Regions from separate parts of the Homo sapiens genome. Here region 1 is linked to region 2. A link means that fine-mapping ties the variant in region 2 to the expression of a gene that starts in the linked region. Tissue or cell type: esophagus muscle. Region 2 holds a variant in brackets; the other region holds the start of a gene. All regions are shown on one strand. Distances are from middle to middle.

What was found. PIP is the estimated chance that this variant, and not a neighbour inherited with it, causes the effect.
Region 1: TBC1D9B starts here. The variant in region 2 is fine-mapped to the expression of TBC1D9B in esophagus muscle (GTEx, PIP 0.92).

Annotation. Positions count from the first base shown.
Region 1 is chr5:179,906,672-179,909,296 of GRCh38, forward strand. It overlaps TBC1D9B (TBC1 domain family member 9B), which reads right to left and starts at 1,226. Exons shown (of 21, transcript NM_015043.4): 1 at 1,033-1,226. The coding sequence starts at 1,150. RefSeq lists an enhancer at 180-957 and silencers at 838-887, 938-1,077, 1,088-1,147, 1,218-1,377.
Region 2 is chr5:179,866,466-179,869,217 of GRCh38, forward strand. It overlaps TBC1D9B (TBC1 domain family member 9B), which reads right to left. Exons shown (of 21, transcript NM_015043.4): 18 at 1,313-1,384. Among named protein-coding and RNA genes, the nearest start is that of MRNIP-DT, 8.8 kb to the left of the region's middle. RefSeq lists an enhancer at 682-1,208. The variant T/C (reference allele first, on the strand shown) is at 1,595.

The DNA.
Region 1 (2,625 bases), 40 kb after region 2:
AACCCGAAGCTGAAGGGAACACTGAGTGTTTCTGGGAACAGAACAGTCTCTTCCACATGAAGAAACGTGGCCCAGGAGAAGCCTCCGTCTGCATCTGGCTATTAGCTGCTCACACTGAAAATCAGGATGATTCACAGAAAATGCTCTTGATAAACTGGACGACCTGGCAACACTGGGACCGCAATCCTGTAGGGCAACAGTCGGTGCCCCGAAGAGCACAGGCACTGAGCCCGAGCCAGCCGGGCTCCTGCAGTGCTGGGCGCAGGCCCTGGAGCATGAGGGGCCCCGGACACCACCTGCGGAGGGAGTGGCCTGTGGGCCTCCCCTGGATCCCACAGGCCGCACGACTCCAAGGGTGCCTGTCCAGCTTCATCCTGTGTGATGGTGGCACCCGGGCCCACAAAGGGCCACCTTGGCGAGCTTGCAGGAACACCCTGTGCCGCTACCCACAGCCTTGGGTGCGCAGCTCTGAGAGCAGCCAGGAGCAGGAAAGGTGGGGGAGGAGAAGCTGGGGGAATGGGGGTGCGGCCAGCTCCAGGGACCTCTGATCTTGCTAAAAGGGCGATACTTTGGTGAGATGGGCACGAAGAAGAGGGCAAAAGAAAACGTGCGCTGGCGTCACCTGGCCCCTTAGAGGCACCTGGGGAAACTGAGGTGGAGGATGAGGACAGGGCGGTCTCGCCAACTTTCGGCGGTGAGATCCCGGGAAGCTGCACGGCCCCCGGGGCTCGCGGGCGCCGAATCCGGGCAGAAGCCGCCGCCGGTCTCCACTTGGCCGCCCCAAGCCGACCTGAGGAGAGCCCGCCGAGGGCGCATTCGCCTCCCGCCAGCCCCTCGCCTCCCCGCCCCGGCCCCTCCGCGCCCGGCTCCCGGGTCCTGGCCTCGCGCCCCCGCCCCGCCGCGCGCTGGCGTGCGTGTCCGCCGCGACGCGCCGAGGCCGGGCCGGAACCGGACCCGCCCGCCGCCCGCCGCCAGCCCCGCCGCCAGCCCAGCCGCGGCGCCCACAGGCCCGGCCGCCCGCGCGCCTCTCACCCGTAAGGCCGCCGCCCCTGCCGTGGCCCCGGCGTCGCTGCAGCACGAAGAAGGGGTTGGCCCGCTCCGTCACCCACAGCGCATTGGCCACCAGCACCTCCTCCGGGCTCAGCCACATCGCGGAGCCGCTCGCACCGGGCCGAGGCCCGCGAGACGGAAGCGCCCGCCGCCGTCGGCGTCCCGGAGCGGAGCGTGCGGAGCGGAGCGTGCGGAGCGGGCCGGGGCGGGGCGGGGCCGGGCGGGCGGCGCCCCCTGGCGGGCGTGTGGCGCTCCCGCACGCGGCCCGAGTTCCGCGCCGCCCCCTCAGCCCCGGCCTCGGGCGCGCGCCAGCCTGGCCTCCTGGAGCGGTGCAGCCCACGGCCTCCGGCCTGGGTCCAGAACGGAACGGCCCAGTCCGCAGACAGGGGAGCCGCTGTGCAGAGCAGGGCTTCTGGCGTTTTGAAAGCTGTGCAGTGTGAGAGAAGGATGTCAAGAAGCAGAGTTTGGCGGCTTTTGGCTGGTTGCGCGTGCAACCCGGGGCGTGTTAGCACTGCAAAGGGCGCCTGGAAAGGGTTTGCAGTTCCTCCTAATTCTCAGCTTTCTTTTCTTTTTTTTTTTTCGACAGAGTCTTGCTGTGTCGCCCAGGCTGGAGTGCAGTGGCGCAATCTCAGCTCACTGCAACCTCTGCCTCCCGGGTTCAAGTGATTCTCCTGCCCCAGCCTCTTTAGCTGGGATTACAGGCTCCCGCCAACACGCCCGGCTAATTTTTTTGTATTTTTAGTAGAGACGGGGTTTCACCATGTTGGCCAGGCTGGTCTCGAACTCCTGACCTCGGGTGATCCGCCTACATTGGCCTCCCAAGTCCTGGGATTACAGGAGTGAACCATCGCGCCCGGCCAGTTCTCAGAATTCTGACACTGGGGCCGGGAGACTAGAAGAATCTTCCAGCGCAGGGCAGGTGCCAGGAGGCCCTGATACGGGCTGCATCCTTGGAAATCAGTGCTGCCCCTCCCCTGACAGACGGGTCACAGAGGCTGGCCGGCCCTGGGGATGGGGTCTGGACTGGCCCTGGGCCCAGTGGCGGCTTCTGCGCAAGTGTGAGGCTGGCTGCAGGCGAATGCGGGTCCCTGGTCTCCCAGTGTTGGCCTGCAGGGGCAGCGCCAGTCCACACACAGCCTTCTGCATGAGGGGGCTGTCAACTCCACCTGGGACAACGGGCCTGGGGCCTGTCCGGGGTCGACTGGGATGTGGGGTCACCCTGCTGGCTGGAACCCTCACCAGGGTCTGGCTAGAGGGCAAAGGGAAGGGGGCAGTTAAACCATCCTTGGAGCTGGACCTGACTTCCAGGTGGGTTTCTGTGATTGGCACTCAAGAATCTTGGTGCGATGGATGTAGGTACATGCAGTTGACACCCAGAGTGATCTGCAGTCTTCTTCAATGTTGCTGGATATAGGAATCAGCTTTCAAGATGCAGAGGCGGGCTTTCTTCAACACCTTGGAAGTCTGAACTAATATTGTCATTGTGCTCTCTAGAGGGAAAGAATTTGGAAGAACTGCACTTTTTAACACCCTGAGAGGAGGTAAAGAGTCGTCTTGTTCCTTAATCCCAGTGGT
Region 2 (2,752 bases):
AGGCAGTGTGGCTGGTGGGGGCACCTCAGGCAGGTCGGCAGCACCCCAGTTCTGAGCTGCTCTCGCTGGCTGTCTGGTGGCAGTGAAGGGCACACCTCTCTGGGCTCAGGCAACTCACCCTGGAATGGAGGCCCTGCTTCCTGGGGGCCACATGCGGTCTGAGGCCAGGGCTCTGCACCAACATGCCGCTCCCAGAAGCATGCGGGACAAGCCTAGAGTGGCCTGCTGGTTCCATGTACAACAGAAGGTGTACCTGCTTCTGTAGTTTCTGTCCTTGAAATCAAGGTCCTCAAGCTCAAGTCAGCCTCTGCCACTGTCACCAGGACTGCCATGGGCATCTTGGTACACACTATTTTTGGTTCTCTTTTGAGTCGGTTCCTTGGTGTGCATTATCCCCCATGTGAAACCACCAGGTGGCATTATGGTCGGTTTTGCAAGTGTGCTGCATGTCACCAGCTCGACTGCGAAAGCCCAGGGCCTAGCATGCTCCCATCACCTGGGATCAGATGCTCCCAACAGGCTTTAAACATAGCACAGGGATGAGTTCTAACAGGCACTCAACATGCGTGTTTTTCCTTAACAAAAAACGTGACGTGGAACATGAAGATTTTTCCTAGGAAAGCATCCACTATTCTTTCCAGCCCCCACTCAGCCACACTGTGTCTTTCACACGCTCCAATGACAGCATTTTGTATTTGTTTCCTACTCACAGGAAGACAGAATGTCTCTAACATGTGGCTGTGGAGGCCTTGCCCTGGGCCTGCTTGGCGCCTAGTGTGGGGGCCTTATTTACCGCCCACCTACAGCAGACACGGAGGCGGTGCAGAGGAGTGGCTTGCTTCTGGGTCCTTCTCAGAACTTATGCCCCAGAGGATGAAGTCCCAGAGAGGTCCCTGGGACAAAGAGCTTCCAGGCTTCCTGATAGTGCAGGAAGAGTGTTAGGAGGTACAGGGGGCGCCCCTGCCTTCCAGGGACTGACCTTGAGCCTCCCAGGGCAGGAAAAGATCCAGATCTGAGGCCAGAGGAGATGCTGGAAGGGACAGCAGAGGAGAGGCAGAGGGGCAGAGTGGGGAGGAGCCAAGGTCCAGGAAGACAGAGACACAAGAGAAACAGGAGTGAGGACATCCACAGGGGGCGGCCCCAGCCCCCGCCAGCATGGCAGAGCCCAGCCCGTGGTCCCCTGGGGAGAACCCCATGCGGCCTGCTCCCTGAGCCCAGGTGGGACTGCTGGCCACTGCCCGAGCCCCACAGGAAGGCGGCGGTGGCTGCAGAGTGCTGGCTGGGCATGTCGGGTGTTCCAGTGGCCGCTCACCTTCTGAGGAGCTGTCCTCTGTGAAATAATGGGCCGCCTCCAGGGCTGACTCGGCTTCCTCTGGGCTCAGAGCTGTGCTTGGAGAGAAGGCAGAGTGAGGGCAGGAGGAAACAAGGAGATCCTCTCAGAGTAAGTTCCCTCCAGCCCTGGGCAGAGCCTTGCTTTCCCTGCCCACGAGCCTGGCCAGTCCCAGCACCTGCCCATGACAGTGCCCGGTAATAGTTTTGATGGTGATGATTGGTTCTGGTTATTTGTTACTTTCCTCAGCTTTTTTTTTTTTAA[T/C]GGACTCTCACTTTATCACCCATGCTGCAGTGCAGTCACATGATCTCAGCTCACTGCAAGCTCCGCCTACTGGGCTACAGTGATTCTCCCACCTCAGCCTCCCAAAGTGCTGGGATTACAGGCGTGAGCCACCGCACCCAGCCTGGAGTTTTGCTCTTGTTGCCCAGGCTGGAGTTCAATGGCACGATCTCGGCTCACTGCAACCTCCACCTACCGGGTTCAGGTGATTCTCCCGCCTCAGCCTCCCAAGTAGCTGGGACTACAAGCACACACCACCACGCCCAGCTAATTTTTGTATTTTTAGTAGAGACAGGTTTCATCGTGTTGGCCAGGCTGGTCTCCAACTCCTGACTTCAAGTGATCCACCCGCCTGGGCCTCCTACTGCATCCAGCCGCTTTCCTGACTTTGACATTGTGTTTGAAAAGGAAATACATGTCCCAGGTAAAAATCCAATCAACACAATTAGGAGTCCAGTGAATGGCAGCTGCCCGCCTGCCCCAGTGACCATCTGGCCAGTGGGCCCTTTGGGGGCGTTTCATGCTCCTATGGGCGCACAGGAACCAGCCACGCACAGGCAACTTGCTGCTCTCCCTTTGGGTAGCTCAGAGGTCGGGCCGCGTTGTGCGTGCTGGCCGGCCTCATTCAGTGCAGTCTTTGCTGGAGGTCACCAAGCAGTACCCAGGGTTGCGGATCGCATGGTCCTGGGTGAGTGTAGCGGGCATGGGCCACAAGCCCAGCAGAGCCCAAGTGTTCTCTGTGTCTGGACAGGACAGGGCAGGGCAGGCTGAGGAGGCTCAGGAGTCTCAGGGTAGCCCCGCATGCTCTCAACCCTGGGACCAGGCCCAGTGGGGTCTGTCCTACCACGGCCTCTCTGGTGAGCCAGCCACAAACGAGAACAGCTATGTCAAGAGCCTTCAGCTCTGGAGGCACAGAGCAATGGCCTGCCAGCTTTAAAAACCACAGGTCTGGGCCCCATCACAGGCAATCAAGTGAGAATCTCCTCGGGTGAAGCTCAGCCCCAGTATTCTAAACATCCCCGGGGTCGGTTCTGAGGGCAGCTGCTAACCTCAGATGGCAAAGCGACAGCAGGGACCTGGGGCAGGTCCAGCCACAGCAGAGTGCCCAGCCCAGGATTTCCACCTGCCTGCGCCTTTGTT